Linked DNA regions of Homo sapiens. The protein of the gene in region 1 purifies or fractionates together with the protein of each later gene. This does not show direct contact. Each region holds a gene or a part of one and is shown in the gene's direction. Other genes may lie near its edges. The genes, in order: RNF135, XRCC4 and GTF2H2.

What was found.
Region 2: the proteins of RNF135 (region 1) and XRCC4 purify together in Homo sapiens (affinity purification with mass spectrometry; 2 studies listed by BioGRID and IntAct, with this or other methods). This does not show direct contact.
Region 3: the proteins of RNF135 (region 1) and GTF2H2 purify together in Homo sapiens (affinity purification with mass spectrometry; 2 studies listed by BioGRID and IntAct, with this or other methods). This does not show direct contact.

Annotation. Positions count from the first base shown.
Region 1 is NC_000017.11:30,981,022-30,984,778, forward strand, and holds part of RNF135 (E3 ubiquitin-protein ligase RNF135), read left to right. Parts: intron 1-3,595; coding exon 3,596-3,739; intron 3,740-3,757.
Region 2 is NC_000005.10:83,080,543-83,084,299, forward strand, and holds part of XRCC4 (DNA repair protein XRCC4), read left to right. Parts: intron 1-3,757.
Region 3 is NC_000005.10:71,053,924-71,057,680, reverse strand, and holds part of GTF2H2 (general transcription factor IIH subunit 2), read left to right. Parts: intron 1-2,223; coding exon 2,224-2,329; intron 2,330-3,757. UniProt on the Homo sapiens protein: Component of the general transcription and DNA repair factor IIH (TFIIH) core complex, which is involved in general and transcription-coupled nucleotide excision repair (NER) of damaged DNA and, when complexed to CAK, in RNA transcription by RNA polymerase II.

The DNA of each region.
Region 1 (3,757 bases):
TGGTTGTAGCGAGCCGAGATCACGCCACTGCACTCCAGCCTGGGCACCATTGAGCACTGAGTGAACGAGACTCCATCTGCAATCCCGGCACCTCGGGAGGCCGAGGCTGGCGGATCACTCGCGGTTAGGAGCTGGAGACCAGCCCGGCCAACACAGCGAAACCCCGTCTCCACCAAAAAAAAACGAAAACCAGTCAGGCGTGGCGGCGCGCGCCTGCAATCGCAGGCACTCGACAGGCTGAGGCAGGAGAATCAGGCAGGGAGGTTGCAGTGAGCCGAGATGGCAGCAGTACCGTCCAGCTTTGGCTCAGCATCAGAGGGAGACCGTGGAGGGAGAGGGAGAGGGAGAGGGAGAGCGTGGTGATGACTCTTAACCGATTTTTAATTATTTCAATCATTTTGTTAAATTTACCTGATAGAATTCTGAATTCCTTCTCTGTTATCTTGAATGTCTCCGAGTTTTCTTAAATCAGCTATTTTGAATTCTCTGTCTGAAAGGTCACATATTTCTGTTTCTCCTGAATTGGCTCTTGGTGACTTATTTAGTTAGTTTGGTGGGGTCATGTTTTCCTGAATGGTCTTGATGCTCGTGGATGTTTGTCAGTGCCTGGGCATTGAAGAGTTAGTTATTTATTGTAGTCTTCACAGTCTGGGCTTGTTTGTACCTGTCCTTCTTGGGAAGGCTTTCCAGGAATTTGAAAGGACTTGGGCGTTGTGATCTAAGCCGTATCTGCATTAGGGGGCACCCCAAGCCCAGTAAAGCTGTGACTCTTGCAGACTACTAGAGGTACCACCTTGGTGGTCTTGTATAAGATCCAGAAGAATTATCTGGATTACCAGGCAGAGATTCTTGTTCTCTTCTCATACGTTCTCCAAAACAGTCTGTCTGTGTGCTGAGCTGCCTGGAGCTGGAGGTGGGGTGACAGAAGCACCTTGTGGCCATGACCACTAGAACTGCACAGGGTCAGACCTAAAGCCAACACAGCACTGTGCCTTACCCAAGCCCCTTGTTAACCACTATCTGGCTACCACCTATATTGACTCAAGGACCTAGGGCTCTATAATCAGCAGATGGCAAAGCCAGCCAGGCTTGTGTCCTTCCCTTCATGGTGGCACATTCACCCAGGCTCGGGGCCGGTCCAGAGACCCATCTCAGCACTAGGACTTGCCTAGGAGTTGCAGTCCTTGTGGCCTAGACTGCCTTTCAAGTTTATTTAGAGCCCCAGAGCACTTCAGCCCACAGTGGAGAGGCTTGCCAGAACTCAGGTTCCAATAACTGGGGTGGGTGATTTGATTCCTCTCTGGCTAGGACTGATCTAAATGCTCCCTCTGTGGGTAGGCGTCAGCTGAATTCAGCCCAGTTTTGCTTTGTGAAGCGACAAGGCAAAGTCTTTCTATTCTCTTTATCACCATGCTCTCCCTTTCCTGAGTGCACAGATTCTCTGTGCATGTGGCCCCTGACACATGGGATATGGGTTGCATTGGCAATTCAAGACTGTTTCTCCTACCCTCTTCAGTGCCTGTTTCAGTAATATAAAGTTAAAACCAGGTACTGTAAGTACCCCTGATTTTTGGTTCTTATGAAGGTGCTTTTTTGTGTAGTTGTTAAATTTGGTGTTCTTGTGGGAGGGATGATCAATGGAGCCTTCTATTTGGCTATCTTGCTCTGCCCTCTCCACCCTTAAGTCTTCTGGCTTTCCCCCACTTCTCTCTGGCCCTAAACCATTTTTAAGTATACAGTTTGGTGATATGAAATACATTCACAATGTTTTGAAACCATCACTACCATCATTTCCATAACTTTAAAAAATTTTAAATTAACATGACTGGTTCTTCAGGGTACCATAACTCTTTTCAACTCGCAAAAGTGGAATTCTAGGAGGACATTAAAATTCTCCATTTCCTCTTCCCCCAGCCTCTGGCAACCATCATTCTAATTTCTGTCTCTGATTTTGACTACTCTAAATACCTCATATAAGTTGAATCATACAGTATCTGTCTTTTTGTGACTGGCTTATTTCACTTAGCATAATGTCTTCAAGGGTTATTTATGTTGTAGCATGTGTCAGAGTTCCCTTCCTTTTTAAGGCTGAGTAGTATTCTATTGTATGTATATGCCACTTTTTGCTTATTCATTCATTTGTCTGCAGATACTTGGGTTGCTTCCATGTTTTAGCTAGTGGGAATAATACTGCTATGGGCATGAGTTTATGAATCTCTTTGAGATCCTGTTTTCAATTCTTATATATCCGGAAGTGGAATTGCTAAATCATATGGTAATTCTAATTACATATATGTACATATATATATATATATATATATATATATATATATTTTTTTTTTTTTTTTTTGAGATGGAGTCTGGCCCTGTCGCCCAGGCTTGAATGCAGTGGCATGATCTTGGCTCACTGCAACCTCCATCTCCTGGGTTCAAGAGATTTTCTTGCTTCAGCCTCCCAAGTAGCTGGGATTATAGGTGCCTGCAACCACACCTGGTGAATTTTTGTATTTTTAGTAGAGATGGGGTTTCACCAGGTTGGCCAGGATGATCTCGAACTCTTGACCTCAGGTGATCCACCCGCCTCGGCCTCCCAAAGTGCTGGGATTACAGCCATGAGCTATTGCGCCTGGCCTATTTTTAATATTTTGAGCAGCCACCATTCTGTCTTCCATAGTGGCTATATCATTCCCACCAACAGTGCAGAGGGTTCCAATCTTCCCACACCATCAACATTTGTTATTTTGGTTTTTTTTTTTTTGATAGTAGCCAACCTAATGAGTGTGAGGTGGTATCTCACTGTATGTTTTGATTTGCATTTCCCTAGTGATTAGTGATCTTGAGTGTCTATTCATGTGCTTATTGGTGATTTGTATATCTTCTTTGGAGAAATAGCTATTCAAGTTCTTTGCCCATTTCAAAATTCAGTTGTTTGTGGGTTTTTGCTTGTTTGTTTTACCAACCAAACAAGCGGCAGTGATATGTTTTTATTGTTGAGTTTTAGAAATTCTCTGTATATTCTCAGTATTAATGCCTTATCAGATGTATGACTTGCAAATATTTTCTTCCATTTTTGTGGATTGCCTTTTTACTCTATTGTTCGTGTCTTTTGATGCACAAATGTTTAAACATTTCATGTAGTCCAATTTGTCTCCTTTTTTCTTTTGTTGCCTGTGCTTTTAGTGACATATACAATAAATCATTGCCAAATCCAATGTCATAAATTTTGCCCTATGTTTTCTTCTAACAGCTGTATTATTTTAGGTCTTACATTTAGGTCTTTGATCCATTTTGAGTTAGTTTTTGTATATGATGTTAGGTAAGGGTCCAGCCATATTCTTTTGCATATAGATATCCAGTTTTCACAGTACAATTTGTTGAAAAAACTGTCCTTTCTCCATTGAATGGTCTTGGCACCTTCGTCAAAAATCATTTAACTATATATGTGAGAGTTTATTTCTGGGTACTCTATTGTATTCCATCGGTCTGTATGTCTGTTTTTATGCCATTACCACAGTATTTATGATTCCCTCTGTCTAGTGGTGGTTCCTGGGTCCAGTTTTATAGAACCCAGGACCTGAACTTTGCTATTTTGAAGGTGGCAGTAGAGAAGAGCATCACAGAAGTTGCTCAGGAGCTGACAGAGCTGGTGGAACATCTTGTAGACATTGTCAGAAGCCTGCAGAATCAGAGGCCCCTATCAGAATCTGGACCAGACAACGAACTGAGCATCCTGGGCAAGGTAGGCTCCACTGGGAGA
Region 2 (3,757 bases), on another chromosome or scaffold:
TTCCAGAAATAATGCATACATTTTAAATAGCATGCCTTTCTGAGTTGTGATGAAATCTTATTCCATCCTATCCCATTCAGCCCGGGGCCATGAATCATCTCCTTGTTTAGCGTATCCCTGCTGTATAAGCTTCCTGCCTTTTAGTTGCTTGGTTATCAGATTGATGGAGGTGGTATCACAGTGCGTGTGTTCTAGGAATACTTATTTTACTTAATTATTGCTTCAAAGCACAAGAGTAACGACGCTGGCAATTTGGTTATGCCAAAGAGTAGCTGTAAAGTGCCTCTTTTAAGCAAAAAAAGGAAAGTTCTCCACTTAATAAGGAAGAAAAGAAATCCTATGTTGATGTTGTTAAGAACTATGGTAAGAACAAATCTATCTGTAAAATTGTGAATAAGCAAAAAGAAATTTATGCTAGTTTTACTGTCACACCTCAAACTGCCAAACTTATAGCCATAGTGCATTATAAAAGCTTAGTTAAGATAAAAAAGGAATTAAATTTGTGGTTAGAAAATGTGAACAGAAGCATGCTCAGATTGAAGGCAGTTGGATTCAGCCTCCTCACGGGGCCTTGGGATATACACCCTTGGATAAGGAGAGGACTGCTATAAAAGGTTTTAGTATTAAGTTGGTATTGCATTTGTATCACCAGACCACTTTCTCCCCATTTTCTCTTTTTACTTTGTTGCTAGTGTTAATGATAGGGTTGATTTACATTACCTTTTACATTACCTACCTTTTTTCATTCACTGTTATTCACATATATTGAAAGACAATTGTTCTGCTTTTTTCCTCTTATCCTCAGCTAGCCTCCCTAACCTCAGGTAGAGGTTTTTCATGTTCCAGTGTTTGTCCTTTTTTTCTCCCCCCTTGTTTTTATTCCCTTCCCACATGGCTTTTCAATTCAGACTGAAATGTACTTGAGGACCAAAGTTAATACAGTTTTATTCTGTTAGGGATTTTTGTTAAATAAGTAGAGTTTCAGCTGCCCTTGTCACACACAAAAAATAAGATAGATGATAGGTGTTAATCTCCTTGACTAAAATAACCATTTTACTATCTGTGTGTATCCTATAATGTCAACTTGTAAACCTCAAATATACACATTAACATTTTTTAAAAAAAGAAGTTTCACCAAAAAAGACACTTCTATTTAATGTATGTCTTATTTCTTTTACCTTAAGAAATGTTTCTCTTAACCTTTCTCCATTTTCAACCCCATTTGTTTGCTCTTCTCTGCAACAAAAATCCTCTAAAGAGTTTTCTATGCTCCATGTTCCAATTCCTCTTTTTCTACCTCTGCATCTTCATTGGTATATTTAAAAGATATCTTGAACTCAGATGTCCCAGACCGAACTCCTTTCCTCCCAAACCTTTCCCATTCTTTCTCATCTGAATTGATGGCAACTTTATACAGCCAGTTGCTCAGTTAAATCTTTGGAGTCATCCTTGACTCCTTCCTTTCTCTTGTATTCCAACAAATCTGTTGGCTTTTTCTATGAAATATATCTAGAATTCAACAGTTTTCTACTATTTCTGCTATTAGTATACTGATCATCTCTTGCTCAGATTTTTGTTATTACCCACTATCATTTCTTGCCTGGATTATAGTAATTGTGTTCTGTTCTCTCTGCTTTTTTCAGTCCTTGCCTCCCTACAGTCTATTCTCATATGTCAGCCAGAGTGATACTTTTAAAATATAAATAAAAAATTGTGTATTTACATGTAAGATTCTAAATGCAATATGTTATGCTAGATTGGATCCTGAAACAGAAAGAGGTTATTAATGGAAAAACTGGTGAAATCCAAATAAAGTCTATGGTTTAGTTGATAGAAATGTATCAGTGTTGGTTTCCTGGTTTTGATAAATGCACCGTGGTAGTATAAGATGTTAATATTAGAAGAAATTGGGTGAGGGGTATATGAGAACTTTCTATTATCTTTGTAACCCTTCTGTAAATTCAGAATTATTTCAAAATAATATACAGAAGAATAAAACATTACTTTTTTGCTTAAAAACCTTTCGTGAATCATTTGATTCATAGTAGAAGCTAACAGCCTTACGTTGGCCTACAATAGTCTACATCAGTCTTGTCCAACTTACAGCTCACAGGCTGCCTGTGGCCTATGATGGCTTTGAATGCGGCCCACCACAAATTTGTAAACTTTCTTAAAACATTATGAGATTTTTTTTTTTTTGAGCCCTTTAGGTATCATTAGTGTTAGTGTATTTTATGTGTGGCCCAAGACAATTCTTCCTCCAGTGTGGCCTAAGGAAGTCAAAAGATTGGACACCTCTGCTCTACATGATCTGGTCTCCCATTACCTCTCTGACTACATGTCTTTGTATTCTCTCTCCCTTTGTTCCAGCCATACTTACCACCCTGTTTCTTAAGTACACTAGGCCTACTTCTACCACAGGGCCTTTGCACTGACTGCTGCTTCTTTCTAGAATGCTTTTGGATCCATACAGCTATTCCTTCATAGCTTTTACATGTTGTTCAAATGTCACCTTTGCAGTAAAGCATATCCCAACCTCCCTATTTAAATTGAAGCTTTGCAACTTCCATAGCCCCTACCCCTATCTCCTCCACCCTGTTTTATCTCCTCTTTTTACTTCAGCGCTTATCATTATTCTATATATGTATTACATATTTGTTACATGTATTTTTAATTGTGTTCCCCTATTAAAATGTAAAATCCATGAAGGCAGGCATTTTTATCTGTTTTGTTGTCTTATGCCACATTCTAAAGCATTTGTCTGAGGCATAGAAGTACTCAGTAGGTTTTGTTTGAATGAATGACTGACTTGATTGGGTGTTTGAATCTGTAATTTTTTTTTTTTTTTTTTTGAGATGGAGTCTTGCTCCGTTTCCCAGGCTGGAGTGCAGTGGCACAATCTCTACTCACTACAACCTCTGCCTCCTGGGTTCCAGCAATTCTCTCTTCTCAGCCTCCTGAGTAGCTGGGATTACAGGTGCATGCCACCATGCCCAGCAAATTTTTTGTATTTTTAGTACAGACGGGGTTTCACCATGTTGGCCAGACTGGTCTCGAACTCCTGACCTCGTGATCCACCCGCCTCAGCCTCCCAAAGTGCTGGGATTACAGGCATGAAGGTGCTGGGATTACAGGCATGAGCCACCGCATTTGACCATGAACCTGTAATTTTTGATTTGCAGTCTGAAACACTGAATTATTTATCACTTCCATGTATCATGCTATTTCTTGCCTCCAAGTTTTTACTCATGCAGACTCTTCTATTTGGAATGCCCTTCCTTATCTTTCTTCCTCTACCCCTAAGTTGTTTTCACCTGACCATTTCTCTTTAAAGATTCGTATAATATTAGATGTAACTCAAGGAAGCCTTCCCTAAAATGTCAGGCCAGGGTAAGTGCTGCTTTTCAGAGGAGCTCCCTTCCTACCTCTGCATTTTACAAACTTATATTATAATTCTGTTTGGGTGTCTCTATTTCAGTAGAGAGTTGCGAATGTGTCTTACTGATCTTTGGGATATCAAATCCTGGTACATAGGAAGTAATCAGTGAATGTTTTAATGCATTAATGGCATGATCAAGGACACTCAGCTATGAAGCATAGTTTTGATTCCAACCTGGGTCTTTTGAGTGTAAAATCAATGGCTTATTTGCTATACCTTGTTTCTTAGGAAAAAGATGGCTGTCTTTAAAATAATTGAAAGGTACTGTATCCTTTTGATACAAGTAGGAGGGAGTTAATGCATTGTATAGCCCTGGAC
Region 3 (3,757 bases), on another chromosome or scaffold:
GCAGTTAAGCAGGCATATGTCTTTGGGCAAGTCATTTCACTTGTTTAGATTAATTTTCTCACTTATGAAGTGAGGGATTTGGACTGCTTAGCGAGGTACTTTTCATCTCTAAAATTTATGAATCTAAAATACTTGCAGTAAATATTAAATATTACAAATGGTTAATATTTTAAAACTTACTCAGATGAGTAAAAACTCAAGGGAGCTCCAAGTTGATGAATAGACAAAGAAGACATGATTCACACAGAAGAAACCCAGAAATTAAATCAGGGAAACTAGTAATCCAAAAAAACTCCACCCAATTACATAACATTTTATTTTTTAATATATTTTAAATGAGCAAAATTAAGTTTCCAAAGCAATATGTTGCTTGTGGAACCACAGAGAAACTGTTATTTATAGTGCTGATAGTCTTACAAATTAGTTCAATATTTTTTAGAAAAGCATAAAAATTGTTCCTGAAATTATATTTAGGGAATGTTATGGAAGGAGAATGATCACTCTACAAAGATACTCTTTGTAACATTATGTATAATAGTGACAGATTAAAAATTAAATGTTTAATAGTATGCTTTGATGGATTATATTTTATGACAAAATCAATTTAATGATACTTAGGTTATTGATTGATACGAAGACAGTGCTGAAATGGAAAATGTTTACGGAATACTATATTTCATTGAAACTCAGATTCCATCAATTACAAGATACTTTTATAAGCCATTAAGAAGGAAAAGTCCTAGTAGTTAAACTTTGACACAGTATCAAATGATATATGAGTTGGCTATACTAGCTTCTTGGTAATTTGACATGTACAGACATCTCAAATTTGGGGGCCAGGCGTGGTGACTTACACCTGTACTCCCAGCACTTTGAGAGGCTGAGGCGGGAGGATTGCTTGAATCCAGGAGTTCAGGACTAGCCTGGACAACATGGTGAAACCCTGTCTCTACCAAAAATATACAAAAAAATTTAGCCAAGTGTGGTGCTGGGCACTTGTAGTCCCAGCTACTTGGGAGGTTGAGGTGGGAGGATGGTTTGAGCCTGGGAGGTGGAAGTTGCATTGAGCCAAAATTGCCCCATTGCACTCCAGCCTGGCAACAGATATATATATAATCTAAATATAAATAATATAAAAAAATATTATATTAAAAAGAAAAAAAAGGATTTGGCAGCTTCTCCCCCCTTCATTTGAATTGCTTAGCATAAGATAGACAATCTTTTCAGATGCTATTTGGTAAGATAACACAGCTTCGTCTGTTTGTGGGAATATTCGTTTCTTAGGTCTTGTAAAGTTCTTGATTTCTTCCCTCAAGAAAAATACGGAATTGCATGCATTCTTCCATCAATATTTGATTCATTATAATAAATTTATGCCTCACTGCTGTGTTCCACACCTTTCTACATAAAAATATAGCCTTTTGTATTAACAACATTTCTAAAAACATTTTATTGTTTGTTTTTTGAGATGGAGTTTCGCTGTTGTTGCCCAGGCTGGAGTGCAGTGGTGCAATCTCAGCTCACTGCAACCTCCACCTTCTGGGTTTAAGTGATTCTTGTGCCTCAGCCTCCCTAGTGGCTGGGATTACAGGTGTATGCCACCATACCCAGCTAATTTTTGCATTTTTACTACAGATGGGATTTACACCATGTTGACCAGGTGTGTCTTAAACTCCTGACCTCAGGTTATCTGCCTGCCGTGGTCTCCCAGAGTGCTGGGATTACAGGCGTGAGCCACCGCGCCTGGCCTTAAAAACATTTTAAATGGCAGTTAAACTCACCATGAAGAGGACAATGTACATAATGCAATTGAAGCAACAACATATGAAGACCTATTTGTAGGTTCACATATGAACAGGCAAAGACTATGTTACAAGTGCTGCTGGCTACCAGTGATTATTAAACACATGCTGATTTCAGAGATGTTAAATGTGAAAATGTATTGGTCTTAAAAATGATGAAATATGGAAATATTAAGAGTAAAAAAATGCACTCTAGGTTAGCATTATTTTAAAATATGTATGCTAGTCTATAAGGAGATTATTTGTATTCTGTTTTTCAGTATGAAGTGAGAGTGTTTACAAAATATTGCAGATAAAATTCCAACAGAAATATACATTGAAAGGATTCTGTTCTTTAACATCATAGATATGTAAATTTTGAGAGAAACATAAACTTTTTTAATATATAGGATTTTATTTAAAGATCTTATTTCTATTTTAGGAAACCCAAGAAAACATATAACGTCTTTGAAGAAAGCTGTGGATATGACCTGCCATGGAGAGCCATCTCTTTATAATTCCCTAAGCATAGCTATGCAGACTCTAAAGTTAGTATTATACATTATGTATAATTGAATTAGAAGTTTTTTAAATGAGTTAAGCTGAAGTGATGTGTTAATATGGGGCCCATAAACCCAGCTATAACAAAATTGTTAAGTACAAGAATTATGTAGTGTTATTTATGATGTTTAGTGTGGTGTTGGTTAGTAATCTTTATTTTACATTTTAGTAAGATATTGTTAAAGGTTTTATAAAAATATAATTTAAAACTGTCGGCAGTATCAATAGTACAAAAATATGTTGATGAAAAAATATTTTATTAAAATGAGATTTAATATAGTATAATAATTGTAAGTTGGTTGTACCTTTATTAACATTTATTAATTTATTTTGAAAGTAATGGCCAAAACCACAGTTCCTTTTGCACCAATGTCATATATCTGTAAATTAATAGATATGGCAAGTTCAGCTATATGGAATAGAGCTAAGACCCCAAAGGAAATACTTGGTATAGTTAAAGCTTATATATATATATAAGCTTTATATACATATTATATATATAATTTATTATACATATATATATAAAGCTTATATATATGTTAAACTTACATATATAAGTTAAAGCTTATATATCTATTATATATATACACACACACACACACACACACACACACACACACACACACGTATATATATATTTTTTTTCGAGACAGAGTCTTGCTCTGTCACCCAGGCTGGCATGCAGTGGCGTGATCTCAGCTCACTACAACCTCCACCTCTGGGTTCAAGTGATTCTTGTGCCTCAGCCTCCCTAGTGCTGGGATTACAGGTGTGTGCCACCATGCCCAGCCAATTTTTGTATTTTTAGTACAGATGGGGTTTCACCATGTTAGCCAGGCTGGTCTTGAACTCCTGGCCTCAAGCGATCCGCCCACCTCAGCCTCCCTAAAGCTTATATATTTTATCTCTGGATAGTCCGCCCTGGCTCAGACTTATACCTTTATATAATAGATATTTTTCTAGTTTTGAAGTGGATGAGAAGGAGGCAACACATGTAATAGAGGTAAGTACAGTAGCAGGGTCTACCAGTGAGAGCTGAGAAGATAACAATGAAAATATAAGCAGGAAAGCTATAACTAACTGATAAAATTGCTGCAGAAAGCATAAAAAGGTCTATTTAGTGTAGGTGAAAACTGGTCACCACAACTTAAAAATCTACAAGCTATCATTTTAATTAAATGGTATGCAATATTAATGTTCATGATTATTATGACTCTGAATTACTGTGAGGTTAAATTATAGTAATCCCCCCTTATCTGCAGTTTCACTTTCCAGTTTTAGTTACTCTTGGTCTGAAAATATTAAATTGAAAACTTCAGTAATAAATAATTCATAAGATTTAAGTTGTGTGCCATTCTGGGTAGCGTGATGAGATCCTACACCTTCCCTCTCTGTCCTGCCCAGGACGTGAATCA